Regions from separate parts of the Homo sapiens genome. Here region 2 is linked to region 1. A link means that fine-mapping ties the variant in region 1 to the expression of a gene that starts in the linked region. Tissue or cell type: monocytes after interferon gamma. Region 1 holds a variant in brackets; the other region holds the start of a gene. All regions are shown on one strand. Distances are from middle to middle.

Region 1 (8,101 bases):
GCTCTGCCTCTTGCACCTTGAGGGGGTGGGAGGGGCTGGTGTCCTCCCTCCAGGCTGAACCCCACTTCCTCGGCAGGACCCCAGTCTCAGCAGCCTCCTGATTTCATAACCAGGCCGGACCACGTGCAATAGGGTGGAAACCAAACTGCTCCATGCCGGGTTATTTAAAAGAAAGGCAGAGTTTGTGGTGGCTTTTTTTTTTTTTTTTGGATTGTTTGTAATTTTTTTAAATAAAAGTATTTTGGAAGGAGGGATGTTGTCTAATGTTTCTAAACTTCACTGGGTCAGTGGGAGGGACCTGGTAAGTTCCTAAACATCAGCACCACTTCCGTGCCATAGCTGGGGTAGGTGTATCATTGTACATGACATTTATTGAGTGCTTGTTGGCTGAGTGCTCTAGCTCCCACTTGGAATCCTAGCACTTTGGGAGGATCTGCTTGAGGCCAGCCTGGGAAATGTGGCGAAACACTGCCTCTACAAAAAATACAAAAAGGAGCTAGGCATGGCGGCCTGTAGTCCCAGTTACTGGGGAGGCTGAGTTGGGAGGATCACCTGAGCCTGGGAGGTTGAGGCTGCAGTAAGCCATGGTCACACCACTGCACTCCAGCCTCAGAAAAAAATTAGTGCTTGTTAAGAGCACTGTTCTAGCCACTTTATTTGAATTAAGTCTGTTAATCCTCATATAGAAGTAAGTACTGTTACCACTTTTTATACAGGAGGAACCAGAAGTTTAGAGAGGACAAGTCACTTAATTCAGAGCCACACAGCTAGGAAGAACAAGGACCAGGGAGCTAGGCTGAAATGGCCTCCAGAGCCTTGTCCTTCACTATTATAAATGTTGCTTCTTAGACTAACCAGCCACGTGGGTGGGCACAGGAGGGAGAAACTGAGTCACACGGAGTATGTGTCACTGAATGTGCTGCTGAGCCCAGAGGGGCAAGAAAATGCCCAAAGACCCCCAGTACTAAAAGACCTCTTTAGGAGAGTTGGCTAGGAAGCAGAGCCCAGATTAGATTTATAGTGCTAATGCTTTTTTTTTTTTTTTTTTTTTGAGACGGAGTCTCACTCTGTCACCCAGGCTGGAGTGCAATGACAGGATTTTGGCTCACTGCAACCTCCACTCCCGGGTTCAGGCAATTCTCCTGCCTCAGCCTCCCGAATAGCAGTGACTACAGGTGCTTGCCACCACGCCCAGCTAATTTTTGTATTTTTTTTAAAATAGAGACAGTTTCACCATGTTGGCCAGGCTTGTCTCCAACTCCTAACCTCAAGTGACCCGCCTGCCTCAGCCTCCCAAAGTGCTGGGATTACAGGCATGAGCCACTGTGCCTGACCTGTGCTGATGCTTTATTTCGGAGGTACGAGCCCAGGCTGCTGAGATACAGGAGAGGAGAAGGAGGTGAAGGAAGTGAAGGAAGAGGTAATGTGATACCTGTACAGGCTATGCCTTTACAATGGTCTTTGAAGAGATGAAGCAAGTGAGCTACACAGCATTAGGGACTTTTCTGGAAGGGCTGCGAGGAGGAACAACACCTGAGTATAGTCCATGGGTGGAGAAAGGATGGGGATTTTGCTTGTGGTTTCTGGGTCAAAGCCAGATTTCTCAACCTGAAGGGGTCATTGTCAGAAAGTGGAGGGATAACCTGAAGAGGTGGGTGCCAATCCAGAGAGAGGAATGAGGTGGCCCAGAGGATCTAAAGAAAGCAACCAGGTACAGGCCAGGCGCGGTGGCTCAGGCCTGTAATTCCAGTACTTAGGGAGGCCAAGGCGGGAGGATTGCCTGAAGTGAGGAGTTTGAGACCAGCCTGGCCAACATGGCGAAGCCCTGTCTCTACTAAAAATACAAAAAATTAGCTGGGCATGGTGGCAAACACCTGTGGTCCCAGCTACTCAGGAGGCTGAGGCAGGAGAATCACTTGAATCCAGGAGGCACAGGTTGCAGTGAGCTGAGATCATACCACTGCACTCCAGCCTGAGTGACAGAGCGAGATTCCATCTCAAAAAAAAAAAAAAAAAAGCAACCAGGTGTGATACTTGCTGTGGAATTGTAAAAAATAAAAATAAAAGGTAAGCAACCAGGTCTGCATCCCAATATGATGGCAATTGAATCATGTCTTCCTCCTTGAAACCTTCAGTGCCTTTTTTTTTTTTTTTTTCTTTTGAGACAGGGTCTCTGGCTCTGTCGCCCAGGCTGGAGTGCAGTGGTACAATCACAGCTTACTGCAACCTCCACCTCATGGACTCAAGCAATTCTCCCACCTCAGCCTCAGCCTCCCAAGTAGCTGGGACTACAGGCACGTGGACCACACCTGACTAATTTTTGTATTTTTTGTAGAGATGGGGTTGTGCCATGTAGCCCAGGCTGGTCTTGAACTCCTGGAATCAAGCGATCCTCACATCTCAGCCTCCCAAAGTGCTGGGATTACAGGCATGAGCCACCACGCCCAGCCTCCAGTGACTTCTTGACACACTCAATAAAGCGCCAGCTCCACCAAGACCTGCAAGGACTGACTTATTCTCACTTCGGACAACTTTCTCAGTTCCATCTCCCACTCTCTCCATCACTCAACTGGGCTCCCTTGACCCCAGCTCCTTCTCACCCCAGGGCCTTTGCCCTAACTGTTAAATTTTCCCAGTGGACATTTTCCCCAATAGCTTCACCAATCCCAATATCCCCTTCTCAGGGAGGTCTTCCTTGCCCTTCCTAGCTCAACACATCCAGGTGGGTCACCACCCCACCACAACTTGTTTGATTTTCTTTCTTTCTTTTTTTTTGAGATGGAGTCTTGCTCTGTCTCCTAGAATGGAGTGTAGTGGCATGATCTTGGCTCACTGCAGCCTCTACCTCCCAGTTCCAGCAATTCTTCTACCTTAGCCTTCCGAGTAGCTGGGATTACAGGCACATGCCACCACACCTGGCTAATTTTTTTTTTTTTTTTTTGACACGGAGTTTTACTCTTGTTGCCCAGGCTGGAGTGCAATGACGCGATCTTGGCTCACCACAACCTCCGCCTCCTGGGTTCAAGTGATTCTCCTGCCTCAGCCTCTCGAACAGCTGGGATTACAGGCATGCGCCACCACACCCAGCTGATTTTGTATTTTCAGTAGAGACAACGTTTCTCCATATTGGTCAGGCTGGTCTTGAACTCCTGACCTCAGGTGATCCGCCCGCCTCGGCCTCCCAAAGTGCTGGGATTACAGGCATGAGCCACTGCACCTGGACTGATTTTGTTTTAGTAGCATCTACCCAATCTCGAGTTACTTATTTCCCATCTATAGGTAGCCTCCTACTCTCCTGGGAACTCTGAGGGTTGTGTTGGTCTGTGCCTAGAACTATGCTTGGCACAACTGCACTCTCCAAAATTATTTGTTGTTGAAGGGTCAGGCACGGTAGCTCACGCCTATAATCCCAGCACTTTGGGAGGCCAAGGCGGTCGGATCACCTGAGGCTAGGAGTTCGAAACCAGCCTGACCACCATGGAAAAACCCTGTCTCTACTAAAAATACAAAATTAGCCAGGCGTAGTGGCACATGGCTATAATCCCAGCTACTCAGGAGGCTGAGGCAGGAGAATCACTTGAACCCAGGAGGCGGAGGTTGTGGTGAGCTGAGATCGTGCCATTGCACTCCAGCCTGGGCAACAAGAGCGAAACTCCATCTCAAAAAAAAAAAAAATTATTTGTTGTTGAAAAACTTGGCCAGGTGCAGTGGTTCACGCCTGTAATCCCAGCATTTTGGGAGGCTGAGGCAGGAAGATCGCTTGTGTCCAGTTCAAGACCAGCCTGGGCAACACAGGGAGACCCCATCTCTACAAAAAACTAAAATAAAATTAGCTGGGCTGATGGCATGCCCTTGTAGTCCCACCTACTCAGGAGGCTGAGGTGGGAGGATCGCTCGAGCTCAGGAAATGGAGGCTGTGAGCAGAGATAACACCACTGCACTCCAGCACTCCATCTGGAACAGAGCAACAGAGGGAGGTCCTGTCTCAAAAAAAAAAAAAAAAAAAAAAAA[AG/G]GCCGGGTGCGGTGGCTCACACCTGTAATTCCAGCACTTTGGGAGGCCGAGGCGGGCAGATCACGAGGTCAGGAGATTGAGACCATCCTGGCTAACACGGTGAAACCCCGTCTCTACTAAAAATACAAAAAAATTAGCCGGGCGAGGTGGCGGGCACCTGTAGTCCCAGCTACTCGGGAGGCTGAGGCAGGAGAATGGCGTGAACCTGGGAGGCGGAGCTTGCAGTGAGCCGAGATTGCACCACTGCACTCCAGCCTGGGTGACAGAGCAAGACTCCGTCTCAAAAAAAAAAAAAAAAAAATGAACTCCAGACCTAGCAATGACTAACTTTCCCTCCCACCTTTCTGAACTCATCTCCCCTACACACCCTCACTCTTATACTCCCACCACACCATTCCCTGCTGTTCCTCATATACACCATATTCCAAACTGAAGGATCTGGAGTAATACCTGCCTCACACTGCAAAGTGTCAGGGAGCCTGAGGCAGGCCAAGGATTCCAATAATGGCTCAGATTTATTGAGTGCCTGCTGTGGACCTGGCACTCTTCAGCAGGAAAATAAATAAAATAGACAATTCCTGCTCTCATGAAATTTAACAGTGGGGGAAGAGTGAAATACACATGAAAAATAATGCCAGGCATGGCAGCACGTGACTATGAGCCCAGTAACTCAGGAGGCTGAGGCAGGAGGATTATTGGAGGCCAAGAATTCAAGACCACTTTGGGCAACATAGCAAGACCACATCTCTAAAACAATTTTAAAAAAAAATTAGCTGGGCACGCTAGTCCCAGCTATTCAGAAGACTCGGGTGGGAGGATCCCTTCTTCAGCCCAGGAGTTGGAGGTTACAGTGAGCTGTGATCACAGCACTGCACTCCAGCCTAAGCGACAGAGTGAGACTCCCACTCCAAATAGATAGATAGATAGATAGATAGATAGATAGATAGATAGATAGTTAGTTAGATAGGGCCGGGCGCTGTGGCTCACACCTGCAATCCCAGCACTTTGGGAGGCCAAGGCGAGTGGACCACCTGAGGTCAGGAGTTCAAGAGCAGACTGGCCAACACAGTGAAACCCCCTCTCTACCAAAAATACAAAAAAATTAGCTGGGCATGGTGGCCGGCGCCTGTAATCCCAGCTACTCCAGAGGCTGAGGCAGGAGAATCGCTTGAACCTGAGAGGTGAAGGTTGCAGTGAACTGAGATCAGGCCACTGCACTCCAGCCTGGGCAACCAGAGTAAAATTATGTCTCAAAAATAATTAAGTAAATAAAAAGAAAAATAAGGCCGGGTGTGGGGGCTCACGCCTGTAATCCCAACACTTTGGGAGGCCAAGGTGGGTGGATAATTTGAGGTCAGGAGTTCGAGACCAGCCTGGCCAACATGGTAAAACCCCATCTCTACTAAAAATACAAAAATTAGCTGGGTATTGTGATGCACACTTGTAGTCCCAGCTACTCAGGAGGCTGAGGCAGGAGAATCACTTGAACCCGGGAGGCGGAGGTTGCAGTGAGCCGAGATCACACCACTGCACTCCAGCCTGGGTGACAGAGCAAGACTCTGTCTCAAAAAAAAAAAAAAAAAAAGAAGTGAAAATGTGTAAGTCAGCCAGGTGGTGATAAATGCTGTGGGGGCAGGGGGGAGCAGAGGAGTGAGGAGGGTGTTGCAATTTACATAGGATGGCCAGATAGGGCGTCTGAGACAAGGTGACATTTGGGTAAAAACCTGAAGAAGGGCCAGGCACGTTGGCTCACCCCTGTAATCCCAGCACTTTGGGAGGCCAAGGCAGTCAGATTGCTTGAGCCCAGGAGCTTGAGACCAGCCTGGGGTAACATGGCAAGGCCCTGAGGTCCTGTCTCTACTCAAAAAAAAAACCAAAAAAACAAAAAAAACAAAAAAACTGGGTGTGGTGGTGCTCACCTGTAGTCCCAGCTACTAGTGAGGCTGAGGTAGAAGGATCGCTTGAGCCCATAATGGGCAGAGGTTGCAGTGAGAGGAAATCCCACTGCTGCACTCCAGCCTGGGCTACAGAGCAAGACCCTGTTTCAAAAACAAAAACAGGTAGGGCGCCCTGGCTCACTCCTACAATCCCAGCACTTTGGGAGGCTGAGGCAGGCGGATTACTTGAGGTCAGGAATTCAATACCAGCCTCGCCAACATAGTGAAACCCCATTTCTACTAAAAATACAAAAATTATCTGGGCAAGGTGGCAGCTGCCTGTAATCCCAGCTACTCCGGAGGCTGAGGCAGGATAATTGCTTGAACCGGAGAGGTGGAGATTGCAGTGAGCTGAGATGGGGCCACTGCACTCCAGCCTGGGCGACAAGAGCGAAACTCCGTCTCAAAAACAAACAGGCCAGGCGCGGTGGATCATGCCTGTAATCCCAGCACTTTGGGAGGCCGAGGCAGGCGGATCACGAGGTTAGGAGTTCGAGACCAGCCTGGCCAACATGGTGAAACCCCGTCTCTACTGAAAATTAGCCGGGTGTGGTGGCGGGCGCCTGTAATCCCAGCTACTCGGGAGGCTGAGGCAGGAGAATTGCTTGAACCCGGGAGGCGAAGGTTGCAGTGAGCCGAGATGGCGCCACTGCACTCCAGCCTGGGCGACAGAGCAAGACTTCGTCTGGAAACAAACAAACAAACTTTTTGTTTAAAAAGTGAGCCACCGTGCCCCGCCCTCCCCCTTTCCCTGCAGCTCTCTGCCTGCCCTGAAGATAACCCTGGGAAGGGGAATCGCACAGTTCCTTAGCACCGCGATGAGGCCAGTAAGAGGAGCACCCTCTTTCCAGATGAAAAAACTGAGGCTCCGAGAGGCCCAGCGCCTTCCTTAACACCGCACTTGTTAAAAAGAACTGGCCACAGAAGTGGAAAGGCTGGCCCTGCAGAAGGAACCGAGTCCCCGAGGGCAGTGTCCACGTTCCCCAACCTGCCCTCCTCCGCGGCGGGGGATGGGCCCGCGGCCCGCCCTGGGCGTGGCGGGAAGGCCCAGTCCCTCCCCGCTGCCCACCCTCCGCCCTGGGCCGGCCGGGGTACCCGGGAGGCGGCCGCGGCCGGGAGCCGGCCTGGCGCCTCCTCCCTCCCCAGAGGCCGGACGGGGCGGGCCGCGCCTCCCGACCCCCCTCCCTGCCTCCCTCCCCAGCAGGCGGAGGCTTCTCTCCAGGCCTGCCGGGCCCGGTGGCTTCGCCGATGGTTTCATTTCCCCAGGCCCGGCCTCTCCTCTTCTCCCTTCCCCCAGCCTTTGAATTCCTGGCTCCGTCTCCATTTTCTGGCCCCAGCTCCAATGTCAACGCCTCGAAGAATCTCTCTCTAGGACCACCCTGGTTACAGGCGATTATCCCGTCTTATTTTGTTTTCTTCAAGTCACTGAACGGAAACGGAAATTATTTTTCTCATCGATTCATCTTCCAGGGTCTTCTCATCCCGCTCGGAGTAAAAAACAAAGGTCCACAGAGTAGGCTAAAAGGCCTCACTTCTCGGACCTCCTTCCCGGCAGCTCCCAGTCCAGCTGCCCTGGCCTTGTCTCCTGACAGGCAGCACTTCAGAGCCTTTGCACTGGCTCTCGCCTCTGCCTGGAATGCTCTTCCTCTAGTTTTCCTACCTCTCTCATTTGTTTTGGTTTGTTTGTTTTTTGAGACAGAGTCGTTCTCTGTCGCCCAGGCTGGAGTACAGTGGGGCGATCATAGCTCACTGCAGCTTCAAACTCCAGGTTCAAGTGATTCTCCTACCTCAGCCTTCCAAGTACCTGGAACTACAGGCACGCCCGGCTAATTTTTTTGTTTGTTTTTGTTTTTGTTTTTTGAGATGGCAGTGGCACCGTCTCGGCTCACCGCAACCTCCGTCTCCCGGGTTCAAGCAATTCTCCTGTCTCAGCCTCCCGAGTAGCTGGGACTACAGGCGCCTGCCATCACGCCGGGCTACTTTCAAAACAAAACAAAACAAAAAAACCACACAAATTATCTAGTACCTTAGGAGCAGGTAATTGCAAAGGAAAAGAAAAAAGCAGACCGGGTGCAGTGGCTCATGCCTGTGATCCCAACACTTTGAGAGGCCCAGGCGGGTGGATCACTTGAGGTCAGGAGTTCGAGACTAG
Region 2 (8,090 bases), 29 kb before region 1:
TGAGCTCAGGGGTTCGAGACCAGTCTGGGCAACTTGGTGAAACTCCATCTCTACTAAAATACAAGAAATTAGCCAGGCATGGCATTGTGCACCTATAATCCCAGCTACTCAGGAGACTGAGACAGTAGAATCGCTTGAACCTGGGAGACAGAGGTTGCAGTGAGCTGAGATCGTGCCACTGCACTCCAGCCTGGGCGACAGAGTGAGACCCCATCTCAGAAAAAATAAAATTAAATTAAATGAAAATAAAAAAATAGAAAACAAAAAATTATTTAAAAAAAGAAGAAATTGGCCGGGCACAGTGGCTCACACCTGTAATCCCAGCACTTTGGGAGGCCAAGGTGGGTGAATCACCTGAGGTCAGGAGTTCCAGACCAGCCTGGCCAACATGGTGAAACCCCGCCTCTACTAAAAATATAAAAACTAGCCGGGTATGGTGGTACATGCCTGTAATCCCAGCTACTCAGGAGGCTGAGACAGGAGAATTGCTTGAACCCAGGAGGCGGAGGTCGCAGTGAGCCGAGATCGCACCACTGCACTCTAGCCTGGGTGAGAGAGTGAGACTCCATCTCAAAAAAAACAAAAAAAAAGAGAAGAAATTTAAAGGGTTAAGTGACATTAGATGTATCTCCTTTACCTTCTGGGCCCCCAGGCCTGATTCTAAGACTAACGGCTGGGCGTGGTGGCTCACACCTGTAATCCTAGCACTTTGGGAGTCTGAGGCGGGTGGATCACGAGGTCAGGAGTTCAAGACCAGCCTGGCCAACATGGTGAAACCCCATCTCTACTAAAAACACAAAAATTAGGTGGGCAAGGTTGCAGGTGCCTGTAATCCCAGCTACTCAGGAGGCTGAGGCAGGAGAATTGCTTGAAACCGGGAGGCGAAGGTTGTAGTGAGCCGAGATTGTGCCACTAAACTCTAGCCTGGGCGACAGAGTAAGACTCCTTCTCAAAAGAAAAAGGAAAAAAAAAAGACTAACAAAGGAGGAAGTTGGGAGATCAATGTCCTCAAAAGACCCAGACAATTGCCAACCCACTGAATTCTAGGAAGGCAGGGTCTAAGTCTTGGTCAGTAGAGTGAGTAGAGTGGAAATTGTCCCTTAGGGGGACACATTGAAATCTTTTTTTTTTTTCTGAGACAAGGTATTGCTCTATCACCCAGGCTAGAGTGCAGTGACACAATCATAGCTCCCTGTAGCCTCCAACTCTTGTGCTCACGCGATCCTCCCACCTCAGCCTCCTGAGTAGATGGGACTAGAGGCAAGCTCCACCATGACCAGGTAATTTTTGTATTTTTTGTAGAGAGGGGGTCTCACTATGTTGCTCAGGCTGGTCTCAAACATCTGGGCTCAAGCTATTTGCCCACTTCAACTTCCCAAAGTGCTGGGGTTACACATGTGAGCCACTGTGCCCAGTCCCAAATCCATTTTTGTTCTTCCCTCCTTCCATGGAAAAGTGAAAGTGAGCACACAGCTACCTACCACCTGTGTGACCTTGGCTGAAATACTTCCACTCTTTGGGCCTTAGTTTGTTCATCTGCAAAATAGTAATGATGGCCCGGCACGGTGGCTCATGCTTATAATCTCAGCACTTTGGGAGGTCAAGGTAGGTGGATCACTTGAGGCCAGGAATTCGAGACCGGCCTGGCCAACATGGCAAAACCCGGTCTTTACTAAAAAAAATACAAAAATTAGCCAGGCGTGGTGGCACGTGTCTGTAGTCCCAGTTACTTGGGAGGCTGAGGCAGGAGAATCGCTTGAACCTGGGGGATGGAGGTTGCAGTGAGCTGAGATTGACTCACTGCACTCCAGCCTGAATGACAGAATGAAACTCTGTCACACACACACAAAAGGGTAGGCCAGGCGGTGGCTCACGCCTATAATCCCAGCACTTTGAGAGGCCAAGGAGGTGGGTGGGTCACCTGAGGTCAAGAGTTGGAGACCAGCCTTACCAACATAGTGAAACCCCATGTCTACTAAAAATTCAAAATTAGCCAGGCATGGTAGCTCATGCCCGTAATCCCAGCTACTTGGGAGGCTGAGGCAGGAGAACTGCTTGAAGTCGGGAGGCAGAGGTTGCAGTGAGCCAAGATCGCGCCATTACACTCCAACTTGGGTGACAAGAGTGAAACTCCGTCTCAAAAAAAAAAAAAAGTAATGATAATCGTACCCGTTTCTTAGCGGTGTTTGAAGAGGTAAGTTATTAATGCAGGGATCATGGTATCTGGTACACTGCAAGCCCTTGATACATGTTCCTTGCTATTATTCTTCATCTTTTCCTCACACATCTCAGCAAATCGATTTGCCTCTTCTGGAGTCAGACAGAAATGAGTTCAAGTTCCGCTTTATTCTTGCTGTATCTTTAACCGAGTATCTTTAACTTGGCCTTTCTGTGCCTCAGTTTCCCTCCCTGTTAAACGGTGGTTACAGCTGTTTTCTTCAGTGGAAGACACTTAGAGATGGGGAGGCCCTTAGCACTCCTGTTAGCCCTCTGGCCAGGCCGAGGATCAGCTCTGGCCATAACGCGATTGAATGGGAAGGAAGGGAGCAGGTAATAGGGAAGCCGGGAAGGGGTGTCCTGCGAGCCTCCCCCCAACACCCCCCCCCCCCCGCAAAGGCTGGTGGGGCGCTGGGCTGCGGTGGCATCAGAGGCTTTAACCCTTCCCAGGCCGCGCCTCTCTCCCTGCGGTCCAGACACTGCGCCCAAGGAGGGGGCCTGGGAAGGACAAGGCCTGGGGGTAAGACCCACGCGTGGCGCGGAAGCTAGACCGGGTGGGGGGGTTGTGGGCTCGTCCTGCCCTCGACCCTTTGCCTCCCTCCAGCCGGGGAGACCCGGGGCTCCAGCCATGCCCCGTGCGCGCGGAGGAGGGATGCTCGCCAGGTGGGGACATACTTGGGGGAGGGGCTGTCGGCCCCCCTAGCAGCTCACCTGGGCCCGCGGCCGCCAGCGTCGCTGTCTCCGCTGCTCGCCGCGACCGACCGCCCTCCCTGTCGGCGTCCGCTGCCCGGCCCGGCCCGGCCCGGCCCAGCCCGGCTCAGCTCGGCCCCGCCGGCCCGCGGCTCAGCCAGATCCGCATGCGCCGCCGCGCCTCCCTCTCTCGCGCCGCCGCCGCGCTCAGCGCGCCCCCGGGACCCCCTCCCGCCCGCGGTCCCCGCGCCCCGCCGCCCGAGGCCCACGCGCAGTCACACCCGGCCGCGGCGTGGGGTGCACGGCTGCACTCGCGAGGGCACGGCGGCGTCACGCGCTGCACACTCCCACGGGGTCACGCTCGCCACGCTGCCATACTCGCGGGGGCCTCGGCGCACAAACTCACCCCCGCATCCACGCGCTTGCGCGCCGTCACTCCCTCCTGTGGGGTCTCACGGGGTCACACCCTCACGCCGTCACACGCGGCGTCCACACTGGAACGGTGTCACCCACCACCACACAAATCCAATAGGGTAACCACCGCCCACGCGGCGTCACACACAAATGCACCTGTCACACACAGCCGCACACTCCCCGGCAGTCACAAACAGTGTCATAGGCCCACACATCACGCACAGCTTCACAGCCACAGTGTCACACACTCTACACACTCGAACCTTCATAGCAGTCGCCCCGCACATGCTGCACCGCCGCACCTCACACATCATAGTCACAGGGGGTCACAATGAGCAGCTCAACACAGACACCCACAGCCACACACTCGAATGGGGTCCCGGTGTCACACATCCTTACACGAGACATGTGGTGTCACACACTGTCACAGTCTAATTAGTCTCACGCTTCCATGTAGCACACCTCACACGTCCCACACCCTATCGTACAGGCTGACGCAGTGTCACCCACGGTGTCACCACAAGGTCACAAAAGAACAGAATCAATGCCTGCCACACGTGGTGTCACGCACGTGTAGTCACACTGTAACACGGGATCACACTCAGAGGATGACACAAGGTGTCACCCACAGTCCTGCTTGCCCTCCGGGTCACTGAGTCACACAGGGTCATATAAGTGCATAGGTACGCCGTGACACAGTGTCTTACATCCAAGTGCACACACACACTCTGTCCTCCTAACTTTCTCCCCTTGCTGGTTCTGGGAGGCCCTGGGGCTTAGAGTGCGCCCCAGATCCGCTCCAGGCTCCGGGAGAGGGGGCGTGAGCTACGAGAGGCCGTGGGTGAGGCTCGCCTGGCCCCGCCCCTCTCCGGGAGGTGGAGCGCGGAGGCAGGGCGCTGAGTGACAAGTTATCTCGGCTCCGTCCACTCTATTTGTTGCTATGTGGAGGCGTGGCCTTCTGTGGCCCCGCCTTCCAGTCTAAGTGGCGCGCAGAGAGGGCGGTGCTGGACGGTGAGCGAATGCAAGCTGACGCCTGCCCCGCCCATCCGCGTTAGGCCCCGCCCCTTGACCTGAGCCGCGGGCGGAGAGTCTGAGGCGTGGCCCTTCGAGCCAGCTCCGCCCCGTTGTTCCTGGCTTGAGTAGGGCAGAGAGCACCGCCCAGCAGCCAGTGGGTTCCCGCGCGTGCCGAGACTCTGAGGCCTTGCACCCCCACGATCCCGTACGATGGCCGTCAAGAAGATCGCGATCTTCGGCGCCACTGGCCAGACCGGGCTCACCACCCTGGCGCAGGCGGTGCAAGCAGGCATGAGCCGGGGCGGGCGGGGCATGTCACGGGACAGACGGGCAGAACTTTAGGAAGGGGCACCATGGGGTCGGGCCGAGGCTGATTGGGGCCATGAGCGCCCCAGCCAGGTGTATGAGGACTCAGGGGCCAAAGCAAGTGGCCACGGGGGCAGAAATGGGGAAAGATGTGAGATCCAAGTTTATGTGAGTCCAAGCCAGAGAGGAATTGGCCCCGGGAGCCCCGGGAGGACTCCACTGGCACAGTCGTGTGTAAGTCCAGGGCTCTTATGCAATGCGGTTGTCATTATTGTGGTTGTGGTGGTGGTTGTTCGCACTCCCAGAGAGGATTTACTAAGCCAAGCTTGCTCTGTCGTCTCTTCACATGAGAGCTTTCAAAATGGGGTGGGAACTAGTATCACCCTACTTGACAGATGAGAAAACTGAGACCCAGAGAGTGACTTGCCCAATATCACACAGCTGTTAACTGACAGGACTGGGATTTGAACTCAGCTCATGCTCTTAACCACCACAAGTCCCCAGGCTGGAAACTGAAAAAGTTGGGGGGTCAGGTTGCTGCGAGTACCTAATGGGAAGGAGTCACAGAGAGACATGAGTGAAGACTTGGGGACAGCAGTCCTGGGAAAGTCAATGAGGGCTGAAAATTTGGAGTTGCCCCAGGAGAGAGGGCAGAAAAGGGGATAACCATCCCCCAGCACTCCCTGCCCCCACAGCCCAGACTTGACCAACTCCCAGCTGGGCCTGGGACTTCCAGATATGGGGCCCCACCCTTGCAGGCCTTGGGGACGCTGAAGATATTGACTATCTGCGTGCCCCAAAAGGGTGGAGGCCAACAGGACCCCACTCTGCTGTCTCCCTTGGAGGGACTCTGAAAGTTCTTCTCTAGGTCCATAACTCTCCCCTTCCCCAGGGAGACCACGTGAGGATCTTGACTTGTGGAGAATGGGGAGCTGTGGGCCTCTCAGTAAAAACCAGTTTGCTGATAAGCATTTATTCGGGAGTAATGGAGAAGGAAGTAAGAGAGAGAAGTTGAGAGGCGCTGAGTCACCTGGAAATCCACTAATTCCACCGAATTCCACTCGCCCACCCTGCTGGTCATAGCTGGGACTGCACTCAGAGGGTTAAGAACTGGAGCCTAGGGAGCTTCAGAGCTGTGGCTCTGAAAAATCTCTTCCCAGCTCTCAGCTTTGCTGTCCCCCTCAGCAAAGGGAAGGGCTGGCCAGGCACGGTGGATCATGCCTATAATCCCAGCACTTTGGGAGGCCAAGGCGGGAGGATGGCTTGAGGCCAGGAGTTTGAGACTAGCCTGGGCAACGTAGCAAGACCCCATCTCTACAAAAATACAAAAAAAAAATAAATTAGCTGGGCGTGGTGATGCATGCCTGTAGTCCCAGCTACTCAGAAGGCTCAGGTGGGAGGATTGCTTGAGCTCAGGAGTTCAAGGCTACAGTGAGCTGTGTTTGCACCACTGCACTCCAGCCTGGGTGACAGGGTGAGACCCTGTCTCTCAAATTTAAAAAAATACATAAAAAGAAAGAAAAAGAGGCTGGGTGCGGTGGCTCACGCCTGTAATCTCAGCACTTTGGGAGGCTGAGGCAGGTGGATCACGAGGTCAGGAGTTCGAGACCAGCCTGGCCAATATAGTGAAACCCCGTCTCTACTAAAAATACGAAAAATTAGCCGGGCATGGTGGCTGGTGCCTGTAATCGCAGTTACTTGGCAGACTGAGGCAGGAGAATAGCTTGAATCCGGGAGGCAGAGGTTGTGGTGAGCCGAGATTACGCCACTGCATTCCAGCCTGGGCGACAAGAGTGAAACTCTGTCTCAAAAAAAAAAAAATTAGCTGGGCACAGTGGTACGTGCCTGTAATTCCAGGTACTTGGGAGGCTGAGGCACAAGAATCGCTTGAACCTGGGAGGTTGCAGTGAGCTAAGATTGCATCACTGCACCACTGCACTCCAGCCTGGGTGACACAGCAAGATGAAAGGAAAGAAGGAAGGAAGAAAAGGAGGGAGGGATGGAGGGAGGGAGGGAGGGAAGGAAAGAAGGGAGGGAAGGAGGGAGGGAGGGAGGGAGGGAGGGAGAAGGGGCTTGGATTAACTGGAGTTCACAATGGTTCTGTAGGGCCAAGAGTCTTAACAGGCATGAACTCTGGTGCCAGCCTGCCCACATTCAAGTCACCAGCTCTGCGGCTTACAGCCTTTGTGACCAAATGCCTTGTCATCTGTGTACCTAGATATGTGTAAGATCATGACAAAACTGGTAGTACTTGCCCTAGGGCTCTTGGGATAATTAAATGAGATCTTATATAGGAGGTACTTAGACTAGCATTGAATTTTGCAGTCTCTGGATCAGACTTACTTAGGTAAAAATTCAACCTTCTCTACCTACTAGCTGTGTGATCCTGGCCCGGTTGCCTAAAATTGCCTCAGTTTCCCCATCAATGTGGACAGGATAATGATACCTACCTTGCAGGGTTGTTGCAACCTGATGCTTCTCAAACTGTGAGTTACAATGAGATCTGAAACATATGGTCACAACGTGTATCAACAATATAGGGTAACAAATGATGACATAGTATCAAAATGTATCACATGTTAAGTATTAGTTTTGTGAAACTCATTTTAATTATATATGTATGCGTTTGTGTACACCAGGTTAGGCAATGAAATTTTTTGTATTGATGGCTGATTTTTTTTTTTTTTTTTTTTTTTTTTTGAGACAAGAGTCTCACTCTGCCGCCCAGGCTGGAGTGCAGTGGCACAATCTTAGCTCACTGCAAGCTCCGCCTCCCGAGTTCAGCCATTCTCCTGCTTCAGCCTCCCAAGTAGCTGGGACTACAGGCGCCTGCCACCATGCCCAGCTAATTTTTTTTGTATTTTTAGTAAAGATGGGGTTTCACCATGTTAACCAGGATGGTCTCCATCTCCTGACCTCATGATCCGCCCGCCTCAGCCTCCCAAAGTGCTGGGATTACAGGCGTGAGCCACCACGCCCGGCCAATGGCTGAGATTTTCAAAAAGCTTAAAAAGAGGCCAGGCACCATGGCTCACGCCTGTAATCCCAGCACTTTGGGAGGCCAAGGTGGGCGGATCACAAGGTCAGGAGATCGAGACCACCCTGGCTAACACCGTGAAACCCCATCTCTACTAAAAATACAAAAAATTCGCCGGGTGTTGTGGTGCACACCTATAATCCCAGCTACTCTGGAGGCTGAGGTGGGAGAATCGCTTGAACCTGGGAGGCGGAGGTTGCAGTGAGCTGAGATTGCGCCACTGCACTCCAGCCTGGGCAAGAGAGTGAGACTTCATCTCAAAAAAAAAAAAAAAAAGAATGCCCATATTGGCCCATGCAAGCCCCTGCTGCTCCCCCATGTGTGAGGGCAGCACAGATCTTGTGTCATTCCCCTATGAAAGGTGGTCACATAGCACGGGGAGGCTGGTGCTGTGATCCTCACTTCAGAGATG

The links. PIP is the estimated chance that this variant, and not a neighbour inherited with it, causes the effect.
Region 2: it holds the start of BLVRB, and the variant in region 1 is fine-mapped to the expression of BLVRB in monocytes after interferon gamma (Fairfax 2014, PIP 0.95).

The regions. Positions count from the first base shown.
Region 1 is chr19:40,432,994-40,441,094 of GRCh38, reverse strand. SERTAD3 (SERTA domain containing 3) reads left to right here. Exons shown (of 2, transcript NM_203344.3): 2 at 1-251. Among named protein-coding and RNA genes, the nearest start is that of SERTAD3, 7.3 kb to the left of the region's middle. RefSeq lists a cis regulatory region at 5,529-5,793, a silencer at 6,872-7,161 and enhancers at 7,272-7,351, 7,027-7,855. The variant AG/G (reference allele first, on the strand shown) is at 4,012.
Region 2 is chr19:40,462,144-40,470,233 of GRCh38, reverse strand. BLVRB (biliverdin reductase B) reads left to right here and starts at 4,489. Exons shown (of 5, transcript NM_000713.3): 1 at 4,489-4,624. The coding sequence starts at 4,546. SPTBN4 (spectrin beta, non-erythrocytic 4) reads right to left here and starts at 3,233. Exons shown (of 36, transcript NM_020971.3): 1 at 2,929-3,233. RefSeq lists a silencer at 4,075-4,274 and an enhancer at 5,296-5,415.